Linked DNA regions of Homo sapiens: region 1 is linked to region 2. A link means that fine-mapping ties the variant in region 2 to the expression of a gene that starts in the linked region. Tissue or cell type: whole blood. Region 2 holds a variant in brackets; the other region holds the start of a gene. All regions are shown on one strand. Distances are from middle to middle.

Region 1 (8,148 bases), 44 kb before region 2:
GACTGCACAGTATGTTTTGGGGTTCTCATCTACCACCACCCAGGGCTGATGGCTCCCAAATCTAAGTTCTGGCCCAGACTCCTTTCCCCAGGTCCACACTCATGTGTTCAACCAGTTGTTGGACAATTCCTCTGGGCTTTCCCAAAGGCCCCAAATTAAACTAATCTTCTTCTTGTTTAAATCAAACAAATTTAAACAAATTAAATTAATTTTCCCTGCAAACCTCTTCCGCTTCCTTTTTATGCCATGTCTTGGGGAATCACATCACCATGTCAGGAATCTTATGTCATTCCTTCCTCCCCTACCTTTGCACCTGAGATCCTAGTGGTCACCAAGTCCCTTCTCTCCTGTGCATCCCCCTCCTTGTATTCCCACCACTACTGCCCTAGTTGGCACCTCATTAATTCCCACTGGAATCACTGCAAATGCTTCATAACTGATCTTTCTATCTGACTTCATTCTCCACACATCCTGCAGCATGAACTTTTTGAAGCACAGATTTGTGAATGCCTGTGCTCTGCTTAAAAGCAATCAGAGGCCCCTCACTAATAAGGAATGAAATTCAAACTCCTGGGCATGATATTTGATTTTTTTTTTTTTTGAGACAGAGTCTTGCTCTGTTGCCCAGGCTGGAGTGCAGTGGCGCAATCTCGGCTCACTGCAAGCTCTGCCTCCTAGGTTCACGCCATTCTCCTGCCTCAGCCTCCCGAGTAGCTGGGACTACGGGTGCCCGCCACCATGCCCGGCTAATTTTTTTATTTTTTATTTTTTGTATTTTTAGTAGAGAAGGGGTTTCACCATGTTAGCCAGGATGGTCTCGATCTCCTGACCTCGTGATCCGCCCACCTCGGCCTCCCAAAGTGCCGGGATTACAGGCGTGAGCCACAGCGCCCGGCCGATATTCGATATTTTAAGCCCTCCTGGATCTGACTCTTGCCCACCTCCCCTGTCCACTTCCTGTCTCCTCTGCTCCAGTCCTACTGAACTGTGTGGTCTCACACTGTACTGTGTTCTTTCAAATCTCTGTGTGTTTGAATATGCTGTTTCCTTTGTCAGAAATGCCCTTCCACCACTATCCTTCTCTGCCGCAATTGCTAACTCTTCTCATCTGTAATCACTTAGCTCAGCTCTCCCATTTCGTGAGTCATCTTCCCTAACTCCTCCCTCTGGATACGTGGAAGTCCCTCCGATGTGCAATCCTAGCAGCTTGTGCAGGACTCTCCTCACAGCTCTCATCATGCTCTATTGCAATGGTTTTTTGTTTTCTCTCCTGCTAGATTGTGAATTCTCACCAGCAGTAATGGTGTCTTATTTTCTTTTGTTATTTTAATGCTCTGATCATCTTTTCTTCCAACCTGATCCTTTCTAAATATTTTTAAATTTATTTTTTGAATAGGCAACACTCATGTGACTGAAAATTCAGAAGTTACATAAAGGTATAAAGTGAAAAGTCTCTCTCCTACCCCTGTCCCCGCCTCTGACACCCTAGCTATCCAGTCTCCCTCCCCAGCAGCAATCAGTGTTATCAATTTCTTGTGAATACTTCTAAAGATATAAAAATATATATGGTTCCCTTTTATTTTATTATTATCTTTTTAGATGGAGTCTTGCTCTGTCGCCAGGCTGGAGTGCAGTGGCGTGATCTTGGCTCACTGCAACCTCCACCTCCCAGGTTCAAGCGATTCTCCTGCCTCAGCCTTCTGATGAATACAGGCACCTGCCATTATGCCCGGCTAATTTTTGTATTTGTTTTGTTTTGTTTGTTTTTGAGACAGAGTCTTGCTCTGTTGCCCAGGCTGGAGTGCAGTGGCACAATCTCAGCTCACTGCAACCTCCACCTCCCGGGTTCAAGTGATTCTTCTGCCTCAGCCTCCCGAGTAGCTGGGACTACAGGTGTGCACCACCACACCCGGCTAATTTTTGTATTTTTAGTGGAGACGGGGTTTCGCCATGTTAGCCAGGCTGGTCTCAAACTCCTGACCTCAGGTGATCCACCCACCTCGGCCTCCCAAAGTGTTGGGATTACAGGCGTGAGCCACCGTGCCTGGCCCATGGTTCCCGTTTTATATACAAATAGTATCATGTTGTATAGATTGTGCTGCACTTTGTTTTCACCAAATCATATATAGTATTGATGATATGATCATTCCATATAAGTGCATACAGAGCTTCCTTATTCTGTGTTTACATTGATTCAATTTTCCATTGTGGATACATTATGATTTAACAAATAAACATTAGGTTGTTTTCAGTCTTTTGTGAATACAAACAATGCTGCAATGACTTAACTTCATAAAAACATCACTTCACACATGTGCAAGTGTAACAGTAGAATGAACTCCTGGAAGTGGAATCGCCTTCAGTTTGAGGAATATGTGTATTTGTAAGTTTGACCATGTCCTGTTGCCTTTCGGGGACATTCAGTATATTTTTATCTAATTCAGAGTAGGCATTCAGTATATTTTTATCTAATAAACCAATGAAAAAATAACTCTTTTAGGGGAGGCTCCCTTCTTTTTCCTTTCTCTGATGCCTTGCTTTCCCCATCCAGTGCTCAGTTCAAACCAAATTATTCATATTCAATCCAAATGCCACTATTATTTTGGAGCAAAACTCTTATATCAACTTTATTGTGTAACTAGTCAAGATCCTTCTTCATTAGCTTGGTTGTAAAATAAGGTCATATTAATTTTTATGTTCTAATTATAATGACTTTGAGTCCTCATCCCATATTTTGTGAGATCTCATCTTTGTTTTTTGGAGACAGGATCTCACTCTGATGGTCAGGCTGGAGTACAGTGGTGTGATCTCAGCTCTCTGCAGCCTTGACCTCCTAGGCTGAAGCGATCCTCCCACCTAAACCTCCTAAGTAGCTGGGACTACAGGTATGTGCCATCATGCCCAGCTGCTTTTTTTTTTTTTTTAGATATAGTCTCGCTCAGCCACCAGCTAATTTTTTATTTTTTGTTGAGATGGGGTCTCACTATGTTGCCCAGTTTGGTCTTGAACTCCTGGGCTCAAGGAATCCTCCCACCTCGGTCTCCCAAAGTGCTGGTATTACAGGCATGAGCCACCACACCCAGCCTTTAAAAATTTGGGGGGACTCTTTTGTAATAACAGTTAGCTTAAAACACAAACACATTGTACAGATGTACAAAATATTTTCTTTCTTTATATCTTTATTCCATAAGCTTTTTTTCTATTTAAGGCAATTTTTAATTTTATGTTTTAAACTTTTTTTTTTGGTTAAAAACTAAGACTTAAACACAAACATAGCCTATGCCTACACCAGATCTGGATCATCAATTTCACTGTCTTCCACCTCCATCTCTTGTCTCACTGGAAGGTCTTCATGGGTAATAACATGCACAGAGCTGTCATCTGATGGTAACAATAACTGGGGCCAGGCACAGTGGCTCACACCTGTAATCCCAGCACTTTGGGAGGCTGAGGTGGTTGGATCACCTGAGGTCAGGAGTTCGAGACCAGCTTGGCCAACATGGTGAAACCCTGTCTCTACTAAAAATACCAAAAAATTAGCCAGGCATGGTGGCGCATGCGTTTAATCGCAAGGGATTTGGGAGGCTGAGGCAGGAGAATCACTTGAACCTGGGAGGCAGAGGTTGCGGTGAGCCGATATCGTGCCATTGCATTCCAGCCTGGGCGATAAGAGCGAAACTCCATCTTAAAAAAAAAAAAAACAAAAAAACAAAACAAAACAAAAAAACACAATACTTGGAATACGTGGAAAAAAATCACAATACTTAGAATACCTAGAATACCTTCTGAAGGACCTGCCTGAGGCTGCTTTACAGTTAACTTAAAAAAAAAAGTAGAAGGAGTACACTCTAAAATAGTGATAAAAACTACAGTGAATTCATAAACTAGTAACATAGTTCTTACCATTATCAAGTATTATGTACTGTACATAATCATATGTGCTATACTTTCACATGACTGGCAGTGCAGGTTTGTTAACACCAGCATCACTCCAAACATGTGAGTAATGCTTGTGCTATGACCTTATGGTGGCTACTGTGCCACTAGGTGATAGACATTTTTCAGCTCCATTATCATCTTAGGGGGCCTCCCTCGTGTTTGCAGTCCATTGTAGACCAAAATGTCCTTATGTGGCACATGACTGTAGTTGCAATACAGGACAAGAAAGTTGCACAATAACTGGGCCTTAGTTCCTGATACTTAGTAGCTGGATGACTTTGAGCACTCTAAGGTTGTTTCCTAATAACGTAAAATAGGGAAGCTAATCGTGATCCGGTTGCCTCACAGGTTGTTGGGCCCTGGTCAACATATAAGTTACTGTGCCAAAAAATGAGTTGATATAATTTAAGACTGTGTTGAATCACAAACGTTAAGTTATTCTAACATTATTGTTTTTTAGAGGTTATGAAATGAAAGGGGGGGGGGCGAAAAACTTGGTCCGCATCAAGAACTGAATCATTTTACCACGCTGGGTGCTGGGTTATACTCTCCCCACCCAGCAGATCAAACTCCTAACCCAGCATGAAAGATAAACTACAACTCCCGGCAGGCCTTGCTTCCGAACTGCGTCTTATAACCTCGGCTCAGGCCCAGGCCCAGACCGCTCCCCGCCCCCGCCACCCATAAACTACATCTCCCAGGAGGCCCCACGGTGCCCGATTGTCCGCTTTTCGCCCGCCCCCTGCCTCCTCTTCACCCCGCGCCAGCAGCTCGGTGGCCGAGTCGGTCCCGCGGCCGGCGGATCGGGCGCGCGCGTCGGGGGTCGTCCGGCTGCCAGGCAGGGCGAGCACGCGCCGGGAGGCCTTGGAGGCGTAGGGGGCGGGGGTACGGCTCGCCTGCTCGCAAGATGGCGGACGAGGACGGGGAAGGGATTCATCCCTCAGCCCCTCACAGGAACGGAGGTGGCGGCGGCGGCGGGGGGTCTGGGCTCCACTGCGCCGGGAACGGCGGCGGGGGAGGCGGCGGCCCGCGGGTCGTGCGCATCGTCAAGTCCGAGTCCGGCTACGGCTTCAACGTGCGGGGCCAAGTGAGCGAGGGCGGGCAACTGCGGAGCATCAACGGGGAGCTGTACGCGCCGCTGCAGCATGTGAGCGCCGTGCTGCCCGGGGGGGCGGCCGATCGGGCCGGGGTGCGCAAGGGGGACCGCATCCTGGAGGTGTGAGTATCGGGGCTACCCGCCGCCCCATCCTCCCCGCGCCCCTCCTGCCCCTGCACTCCTCGCTACCCTTGTCACCCCCAGGCCGCACCTCCCCCGAGCTCCGAGCCGGCCTCCGGACCCCCGCCCCTCAGGCCTCCGCAGCCGGGCCCCTCCTTGTGGGCTGCCCTCCCACCACCCGCCCCGGGGCTTCTGCGACGCCGGTCTCCCACCCCGTCGTCTCCAGCTGATGCCCTTGCGCCCCCAGTGCTCCTCCCTGTGCCCCGATTACTCTGGGCTCTTCTCCGCCCCTTTGCCTTCCCGTTTGGCGTGCTGCATTCTGCTCCTCACTCCCCCTCGTCTTGCTCAGAAGGAACCTCATCTGCTCCTTACTGACGGCGTTTCGTTTTCTGATCCAGCCAGTACCGTGTCCCCCCCAAGTTCTCATCTTCAGCATCGCAGTTTCGTTCTCCACCACTCCCCTCCGCCCCCGTGGACTGCCCCTTCTGCCCTCCAGACCAAGTAGGCAGGACCTCTGGTCTGCTCCTACTTTTCCTCCGGAAACACCATCCCTCCCCGCTCGTCTCCTTTTTCTTTCCTTAGTTACCCTCTCCTCATGGTTACGCTGCCCCTAAATTTTTCCATCCCACCGTGTGCCCCTTTCCTCCCCTCCTTTTTGTATTTCTACTCCAAGAGTTTACCTTGCTTTCTGACCCTTGCATGCCTTTGGGGTGGGGGGCGTGGGATTTGACACCGTAGTTTCTCTTCTCGGTTGGCCCCGTATCACACCCTAATTTGGAATCTAGCGTCTCCATCAGCACACCCCTCTGAGAGCATCCCTTCCCTGGCCTCCTGCCTTCACTCCTGCTCTATACTCATGCCTCCTCCTAGTCAGGTTTATGGTAGACCCCTTGTAACTCCTCCTCCTTCAAAACTACTTCAAGCCCTTTTTGGGTCTTTGACCGCTTTGCTTTTTTAGGGCATGCCCGTCTCTGCTGCCTCTTCTACTCTATCCTCCTGTGATCCCACACTTGACTTTGTCCTAGTCTTTCCCTCCCCTAGGCTGCTTTTCCTTTCTTCTGTTTTTTAAGGCGCCTTCTGCTGCTGCAGCCCACCCTCTCTCCCCTGCTGCAGTCCCTCCCCCTTCATACGCCTCCCCCACCACATCCCTCCATGCTCTTGCGGGATGCTGCCTTGTCTTGCAATCTCTGTGCACACCGCCTCCATTACCCTAATCTAGGTGTTACATTTGCCTTTTTGTACTTCGTATTGAAATTCGGATAGTGATTGCCGGTTGACTTGCAGGTGGTGTGTGCTCGCGTTGTCTCCGTTCTCCTCAGCAGTCTTCAGTGCTGTGTTTCTGCTTACTGAATCTATGTTGTGCATTCCTTTTTTACACTTTTACTCTCTCCCTCCATATTTCGATTTGCCCACTTGAAATCGTTCTCATTTTTTATAAATTTTAATTGTAATTTCCGCAACCTTCTGTTGCCTCTTGTAAAACAGTAGGTTTGCAAAAGGGATAGTTTTTTGAAAATCTGCCTTATAGAGAAATCCATTCCTTCTTACTCATCTCGTGCCATCTACCCTTATCCTTGACATTCTTAACTCCATGGTGTCCACTCATTCTGTTTCCTCACCTCTTCCACCTCAAGAAATGGTTGGTTTTAACCTGGGAGAGTTGATTGAAAAAAAAAAAAAGAAATAGTTGCTCACCTAGGCCAGTGTTTGGAGACAGTATACCTTTCCTCTGTCCTTTCTGTAAATAGATGCTTTCTTGTTTCATTAATGTCCTACATACTGTTTCCTAGTATTCCTAGTATTGTCTGACAATATATTCTTTTTTTTTCCTTGAGATGGAGTTTTGATCGTCACCCAGGCTGGAGTGCAGTGGCGCGATCTCGGCTCACTGCAACCTCCGCCTCCCGGGTTCAAGCGATTCTCCTGCCTCAGCCTCCTGAGTAGCTGGGATTACAGGCATGTGTCATCATGACCAGCTAATTTTGTATTTTTAGTAGAGACGGGTTTCACCATGTTGGCCAGGCTGGTCTGAAACTCCTGACCTCAGGTGATCCGCCCGCCTCGGCCTCCCAAAGTGCTGGGATTACAATAATGACTTTCAGATTTCTTATACTTGGGCACCTAATTATTTTCTTTCTAGATAACTCAAAATTTGTGGCTGATGTTTTCTTCCAATAGAAGGTCTCAGAATTGTCACTTTCCTTTCCCTTTGGAAGTTAATTTTGGACTCAGCTTCTTATTTTTAAATTTAAAACTAAAGCATTTATAATTATAAATTTATGATGAAGTTCTACATTATTTACTCTTCACAGGATCTAAAGGAACTAAACCAAAAAGAATAATTCTGTAGGAGACTATAGTTAATATGATCTATCTTTGCAGATACACGCACACATCCCAACATACATAGTTAGTGGCTTCTTGCCTTTATTGTGGCTTCTGCCCAAGAGCCTAGGTATAAACTGTAAAGGAGACCTCAGATAATCCCCTAGGAAAGGTAGAAGGACTTGCCTTAGGCTCAGGTTCCAGACTAGGAAGCTGGGAAATCTTTGCCTTCTAGAGAAAAAACATTACTTTTTGGCACATCCTTTGTGGTAAGTAGAGAACTTTGTCACTTTTAGTGGGCAGGGGAAAAGAATACTCTGCCTAGAAGACCTCTCTGGAAGGTTGTGATAATCAGAAATCTTCCTGGCATTGGTTTCTCACTCTTCCAACTATCTGTATTTTGATTTCCAAATTCTCTGAACCTTCTTTGGTACTATAGGGGAAGTAATGATAATTACAGCCCAAAGCCAAGCTAGTGGTACATTCTGTGAGACCCCAACTATACAGTGTCTTTCTCTTTTCTTTTTTTTTTTCTTCCTTTCTTCGATAGTCTGCGCCTTCTCTTTAGGGTTTCAAGTGAGAGGGGAAATCAGCAACCAAATAGATGTGGTTCTTGAGGGATATCTGTGCCCGCTACTTGTCTCGATCTTGGTTAGGTTGATGCTAAT
Region 2 (8,000 bases):
GGCAGAGGCGCCCCTCACCTCCCGGGCGGGGCGGCTGGCCGGGCGGGGGGCTGACCCCCCGACCTCCCTCCCAGACGGGGCGGCTGGCCTGGCGGGAGGCTGACCCCCCTACCTCCCTCCCAGATGGGGCGGCTGGCGGGGCGGGGGGCTGACCCCCCCCACCTCCCTCCCGGATGGGGCGGCTGGCCTGGCGGGGGGCTGACCCCCCCCACCTCCCTCCCGGACGGGGTGGCTGCCGGGCGGAGACGCTCCTCACTTCCCAGATGGGGCGGCTGCCGGGCAGAGGGGCTCCTCACTTCTCAGACGAGGCGGTTGCCGGGCAGAGGGTCTCCTCACTTCTCAGACGGGGCGGCCGGGCAGAGATGCTCCTCACCTCCCAGACGGGGTCGCGGCCAGGCAGAGGTGCTCCTCACATCCCAGACGGGGCGGCGGGGCAGAGGCGCTCCCCACATCTCAGACGATGGGTGGCCGGGCAGAGATGCTCCTCACTTCCTAGATGGGATGGCGGCTGGGCGGAGATGCTCCTCACTTTCCAGACTGGGCAGCCAGGCAGAGGGGCTCCTCACATCCCAGATGATGGGCGGCCAGGCAGAGACGCTCCTCACTTCCCAGACGGGGTGGCGGCCGGGCAGAGGCTGCAATCTCGGCACTTTGGGAGGCCAAGGCAGGCGGCTGGGAGGTGGAGGTTGTAGCGAGCCGAGATCACGCCACTGCACTCCAGCCTGGGCACCATTGAGCACTGAGTGAACGAGACTCCGTCTGCAATCCCGGCACCTGGGGAGGCCGAGGCTGGCGGATCACTTGCGGTTAGGGGCTGGAGACCAGCTCGGCCAACACAGCGAAACCCCGTCTCCACCAAAACCAGTCAGGTGTGGCGGCGCGAGCCTGCAATCGCAGGCACTCGGCAGGCTGAGTCAGGAGAATCAGGCAGGGAGGTTGCAGTGAGCCGAGATGGCAGCAGTACAGTCCAGCTTCGGCTCCGCATGAGAGGGAGACCGTGGAAAGAGAGGGAGAGGGAGACCGTGGGGAGAGGGAGAGGGAGAGGGAGAGGGAGAGGGAGAGGGAGACGGAGAGGGAGAGGGAGAGGAAACTGAATCTTAATCTAATTTTTCTCTTTAGATAATTTTTATGGACCTATCATTAAGTTTGCTGATTTTTTCCTCAGCTGTGTCCAGTCTGCTGATGAGACTGTTAGAGGAACTCTTCATTTTTGATACCACGCCTTTTTTTTTTTTTTTTTTTTCCTCAGACGGAGCCTTGCTCTGTCACCTAGGCTGGAGTGCAGTGGTGTGATCTCGGCTCACTGCAACCTCCGCCTCCCAAGTTCACGCAATTCTCCTGCCTTAGCCTCCCGAGTAGCTGGGACTACAGGCAGCCGCTACCACGCCTGGCTAATTTTTGTATTTTTTTTTAGTAGAGACAGCATTTCACCATATTGGCCAGGCTGGTCTCGAACTCCTGACGTTGTGATCCACCCGCCTCGACCTCCCAAAGTGCTGGAATTACAGGCGTGAGCCACTGCGCCCAGCCCATGCGTTTTATTTCTGTCACTTTCATTTGTTATTTGCTTGTAATTTTCACACCTGCTGAAATTCTGTATCTGTTCATACATGTTTTCTGCCTTTTCCTTTTGCATGAGATCTTTAGCATTGTTAATCACGGTTATTCTAATAATATGCTGCCTGATAATTTCAACATCTGGGTCATCTCTGAGACTGTTTTATCTCTTGACATAATGTTGGGTTTCTTTTTTTTTTTTTTTTTGAGATGGAGATTTGCTCTTGTTGCCCAAGCTGGAGTACAATGGCTCGATCTTGGCCCACTGCAACCTCCGCCTCCCAGGTTCAAGCAGTTCTCCTGCCTCAGCCTCCTGAGTAGCTCGAATTACAGGCATGTGCCACCATGCCTGGCTAATTTTGTATTTTTAGTAGAGACAGGGTTTCTCCATGTTGGTCAGGCTGGTCTTGAACTCCTGATCTCAGGTGATCACCCGCCTTGGCCTCCCAAAATGCTGGGATTACAGGTGTGAGCCACCGCACCCAGCCTTTTTTTTTGTTGTTGTTGTTTGTTTGTTTGTTTTCCATTTTTGTTCTGTAATATTTAACAATGTCAAGCATCATGTGTGGAATAATAGTAGAGATGACTGAAGTAAATAGTGTTTCAACTTGGAAATGGGCAATACTCTTCTGTTAGGGAATGTAGTCAGTTAAGCTGGGCTTGAATTTTGTTATAGCTATCATTACCTTTACTGTGCCATAGGCCTCAAGTTTCTCTAGCAATGGGTTGCTATTACCTTGTGCTTAGAGTGAGGGCTGGGGTTCTGAAGGTTTTTAAATTTATTTATTTTTTGTTTTTTGAGACAAGCTCTCCTTCTATCACTCAGACTGGAGTGCAGTTGCACAATAATGGCTCTTTGCAGCCTTGACTTCCTGGCTTAAGCATTCCTCCTGCTTCAGCCTACCAAGTAGCTGGGACCACAAGCACACGTCATCACATCTGGCTAATTTTTTTTTTACTTTTTGTAGAGACAGAGTCCCACTATTTTGTTCAGGCTGGTCTCAAAATCCTGGGCTCAAGTGATCCTCCTGCCTTGGCCTCCCAAAGTGCTGGGATTATAGACAAGAGCCACTGTGCCCAGCCTGGAGAGTTTTTTTTGTTTTTTTTTTTTTTTGAGATGGAGTCTTGCTCTGCCACCAGGCTGGAGTGCAGTGGCGCGATCTTGGCTCACTGCAACCTCCACCTCCTGGGTTCAAGTGATTCTCCTGCCTCATCCTCCCTAGTAGTTGGGACTACAGGCGCACACCACCACGCCAAGCTAATTTTTGTATTTTTAGTAGAGATGGAGTTTCAGCATGTTGGCTGGGATAGTCTTGATCTTTTGACCTCGTGATCCACCCGTCTTGGACTCCCAAAGTGCTGGGATTACAGGCGTGAGCCACCGTGCCCGGCCGACCCTGGAGGGTTTTTTTCAGTGTTTTGTCCTCAGGCTTTCAGCCACCTGTGCATACCAGTACCACAGACAAGTTCTCTCTTTACATTCTTACCCCTCTGCTACTGGTAGACTACTCTTGCTTTTTACTTGGGCTAGACTCATGGTAGAGGTAGATGTTGTGTAGTTCACCCTTAGTCTTAGGCAGAATCTGTGTCTCTGTGTCCTGATTCTTTTGCCCTTCCTTCTTATTGCAGCCAAACTCGGCCTTGTATCTGTGGTTAGTCTTGGGAAAGCGTTTCCTGTCCCTCCCTCAGCTATAGCCGACCTCTGCTTGGTAACAGTGGAGGAACCTGGGCCTAATATGGTTTCCTGCCTCTCCCCAGGG[G/A]TATAGAGTATTTTACTTTTACTCCTTCCCCTGAAGAAGTGGATCTTTGCCTGTGCACTCTGAATGAGAGGATTTACTGCCTGTCTTAGCCTGTTTTCACTGCTTTAATAGAATAACACAGATTGTAGGTCATTTATAAAGAAAAGTGATTTGGCTTACAGTTCTAGAGCCTGAGAAGTCTAATATCAAGGGGCCACATCTGGTGAAGGCCTTTCTGTTGTGTTATAACATGAAGGAAGGCATTCCCTGGTGGGGAAGTGCATGTGAGACAGAGAGCAAATGGGGCCCAAACTCCTGAGATAAATAACCCACTGCCTCAATAATGACATTAATCACGAGAGTTTTGCCATTACCTCTTAAAGATCCCACTTCTTAATACACTTCGTAATCCCACTTCTTAATATATGATAGCTGCTTAATGTCCTTGTCTACTGATTCTTTTGTCTTGGTAACTTCTGAGCCTGTTTCTACTGACTAATTTTTATCCTGGTCATAGGTCAAATTTTCATGCTTTTTTATATGTCTAGTAATTTTTGATTGGATATTGTATATTGTGAATGCAGTGTGATTGGGTGCTAGATTTTGTTACATTTCTTTAAAGAGTGTTGGAATTTTTTTTTTTCTCCTGGCATACAGTTAAGCTACTTAAAGATTACTTTGGTCCTTTTTAGCTTTGTTTTTAAGCTCTTTTTGAGTAGTTTAGAGTACCTTTTACTCTAGAACCAATTTAGCTCCATTCCTAAAGCATGGTCTTTTTGAGTTCCCTTCTAAATTCCATGCAGATTTAGGGAGGTCTCTTTATTCTGGCTGGAGGGAAGTTGAATGATTCCATAACCTGTGTGAACTCTGGGAATTGTTTATTTACTGCTCCCGGCTGATAATAGTTCTTTCCTTAGATCGTTATTCAGTCAAAATTCAAGGGAACTTAATACAGATTTCTGGAGCTATGTCTTGCTTTAGCTCCCTCTTGCATGATTAGTCCTGCAAATTGTAGCTGCTTTGGCCTCCTCGAACTTCAGTTTCTGTTTATTCAACTCAGTGAAGTTGCCAAACTCTGTTTGGGTACCCCTCCCTGAGCTGCAGTTTAGGAGTTACCTCTAGGCAGAAAGCTGAGATTATGTTAGGGATCATCTTGTTTGCTTCCCTTTTCTCAGGGATCACCGTTCTTAGCTGCCTGTTGTCCAGTGTCTGAAAATAGTTGTTGCCTACATTGTGTCCAGTTTTCTGGTTGTATTTAATGGGAGGTTAATTACCACCTGGAAGTCCACAGATTGTTCTATAAATGGAGAATGTTTTTTATTTAGGGATGATTTGATTAAAAGTTGATTTTAAATATTCTTGGCTTTAAAAGAAATGCCAGTGGAACTCTACTTCATATTATATAGAGGAATAAGTTCCAGATGGATTAAGGACTTAAATGACAAAACAAAAAATTAAAAGCTCTTGGCCGGACACGGGTCTCACACCTGTAATCCCAGCACTTTGGGAGGCCGAGGCGGGTGGATCACGAGCTCAAGAGATCCAGACCATCCTGGCTAACACGGTGAAACCCCGTCTCTACTAAAAATACAAAAAATTAGCCGGCCATGGTGGTGGGTGCCTGTAGTCTCAGCTACTTGGGAGGCAGAGGCAGGAGAATGGCGTGAACCCGGGGGGCGGAGCTTGCAGTGAGCAGACATCGTGCCACTGCACTCTTAGCCTGGGTGACAGAGCGAGACTCCGTCTCAAAAAAAAAAAAAAAAAAAAGACCAGTGACAAACTGGAAGAAGATATTCACAATACACACAAATGAAACAGATTATGTCAATATATAAAGAACTCCATAAATCAAATCAATAAGAAAAGCCAAAAAACTTAATATGAAGGTAGGCAAAACGCATGAGTAGGTACTTTACAAAAAATGACACTCACATGGTCAATAAGTATATGAAGAGATATTAAACATCATTAGTAATTAGGATCACAGAAATCTTTTCACACCAATTCCATTGGCAAAATTAAGAGGATCTTTTTATATATTGCTGAAAGAGAATAAATTGGTACAACCACTTTAGCTTACATTTCGGCATTATCTCCTGAGGTTGAATATGCATATAACTCTGCAGTTCACTCAGGGTTGTACTCAGAAGAATATCTTTTGCATGTACAGCAGGAGGCATTTATACAAATGTCAATGGCAGCATTATTCACGGTAGCTAAAATCCAGAAACAACCCAAGTGCTCATGAGTGGGAGAACAGATTAAAAACAAACGAGCAACTATGATATATTCACACAACAAAATGCTGTATGCAGCAGAGTATACCACAAAGACATATAATGTTGTGATGAAACTATAGTATAATATTAACTGAAAAAAGTAAGTCCTTTGAAGTATCATTCATCTTGATACTCTATTTTTATAAAACCAAAATATCCTTTAAAATTAGAATAAAAATAAAAATTTAAGGATTATATATAAATGCAAAAAATATATAAAAAGAAAAGCAAGGGAATCATGAACATGGTTGGATATGATAACTTTTTGCGGTCAGAGAAACAGGGACATAAGGATGTGGAATAGAGGAGGCGGAGACTATATGGTGTAAAGTAAATTATTTTCAAGATCTTAGCTTAGCTTTTATTTTGCTTTTCACATTATCTGCTTAAGGAACTAACAAAAATTCCACTGTTGCTGAAATCATTTTGTTTTTTTGAGACAGTGTGTCCTTCTATTGTCCAGGCTGGAGTGTAGTGGCAGGATCGTGGCTCACTGCTTCCTCTGCCTCCTGGATTCAAACAATCCTCCCACCTTAGCCTCCTGGGACTACAGGCGCATGCCACCATGCCCAGCTTCATTTTTGTATTTTTTTGTAGAGACAGGGTTTCACCATGTTGCCCAGGCTGGTCTTGAACTCTTGGACTCAAGCAATCTGCCTGCCTGTCAGCCTCACAAAGTGTGCTGGAATCACAGACGTGAGCCACCGTGCCCAGGCCGCTTACATCATTTTTAGGCCTTTTCTTTGGAATCAACTTTAGAGCCAGTTTAGGCCACACACGAGTATCAGTTACATTGCTTTATAATCAACCCTAGGTTTTCAGCTCCCTTCAAATTTGCTTGCTTATTGACTCACTATATTTACCACATTGGCTTCAAATGACTTTTAACTTTCTGAAAATAAAATCCACCTTAAAAACTGATAATTGCCTTTGAAGATATTTAAAAGTATGCTAGAGGTCATTTTAATAGCAAAAATAAGATCACACTCCTCCTGCTGGGTGCGGTGGTTCAAGGTGGGTGGATCACCTGAGGTCAAGAGGTCGAGACCAGCCTGGCCAACATGGTGAAACCCCTTCTCTACTAAAAATACAAAAATTAGCCAGGTATGGTGGCGGATGCCTGTAATCCCAGCTATTCAGGAGGCTGAGGCAGGAGAATTGCTTGAACCCGGGAGGCGGAGGTTACAATGAGCCGAGATCATGCCACTGCACTCCAGCCCGGGCAACAGAGTGAGATTCCATCTCAAAAAAACCCCAAAAAACAAAAACAAGATCATGCTCCTTTGGTAGTCCTTTTTTATGCATATAACTTTATGCATGTTTGTCAAAAGTAAGTCTTACTTTAAAGTGAGCTTGAATATAGTCTTTGTTAAATGCATAGCAGAATGCATCTAACCAATATCATCTAAGCCTGACTAGATGATTTTGTGATTTAATTTGTATTAAGTATGCTTTTCTTTTGTTCTTCTCCTTCACCAGGTATATAATGTTTACATGGCAGGGAGGCAGCTGTGTTCTAAGCGGTACCGGGAGTTTGCTATCCTACACCAGAACCTGAAGAGAGAGTTTGCCAACTTTACATTTCCTCGACTCCCAGGGAAGTGGCCATTTTCATTATCAGAACAACAATTAGATGCCCGACGTCGGGGATTGGAAGAATATCTAGAAAAAGGTAATCCAAACCATCAAACTCTACTATATTGAGTAGACGTAGGTTCTAGATATGCAACTTCTAAACTGCATAGCTGAATTTCCAGAACCTCAATAGTGAATGTAAGTCAGGTTTCTGACTAAGTATTGAATGATCTGAACTTTGAAGGCAAAACTGAAATGTCCAGTACAGTGATCAGTAGCCTGTTTCATTGGTTTGTTGAATGCTTAACAACAACAGAAAAATGAATATTTAGTTTTTGATGCATTTGGTGATGCCTAATGGACTTTTTTTTTTAGACGGAGTCTCGCTCTGTCGCCAGGCTGGAGTGCAGTGGCACGATCTCAGCTCAACTGCATCCTCTGCCTCCTGGGTTCAAGTGATTCTCCTGCCTCAGCCTCCTGAGTAGCTGGGACTATAGGCACATGCCACCACGCCCAGCTAATTTTTGTATTTTTTAGTAGAGACAGGGTTTCACCATGTTGGCCAGGATGGTCTCGATCTCTTGACCTCGTGATCCGCCCACCTCGGCCTCCCAAAGTGCTGGGATTACATGGACCTTTATTTTTAGGGTTATATTATCTGCCAGCAAACACATATAGACTCAGCAATATGCTGAATTGATTTGGGAACTAAGTGGGCAATATTAAGACATTTTAAATATTTAAGACATTTTCATTAAAATGATTCTTGGCTTACTGCTGTATCCTACATGAAAACTTTATTCATTTTACAGGTATTCATAGATAGGTTTGCTGAGTTGTAGGTAATCTA

The links. PIP is the estimated chance that this variant, and not a neighbour inherited with it, causes the effect.
Region 1: SNX27 starts here. The variant in region 2 is fine-mapped to the expression of SNX27 in whole blood (TOPMed, PIP 0.91).

What each region holds. Positions count from the first base shown.
Region 1 is chr1:151,607,356-151,615,503 of GRCh38, forward strand. SNX27 (sorting nexin 27) reads left to right here and starts at 4,695. Exons shown (of 12, transcript NM_001330723.2): 1 at 4,695-5,157. The coding sequence starts at 4,847. It overlaps LOC124904420 (a long non-coding RNA gene), which reads right to left and starts at 6,013. Exons shown (of 2, transcript XR_007066622.1): 1 at 5,836-6,013; 2 at 3,162-5,044. RefSeq lists an enhancer at 4,471-4,570 and a silencer at 4,611-5,050.
Region 2 is chr1:151,651,181-151,659,180 of GRCh38, forward strand. SNX27 (sorting nexin 27) reads left to right here. Exons shown (of 12, transcript NM_001330723.2): 3 at 7,055-7,247. Among named protein-coding and RNA genes, the nearest start is that of SNX27, 43 kb to the left of the region's middle. The variant G/A (reference allele first, on the strand shown) is at 3,318.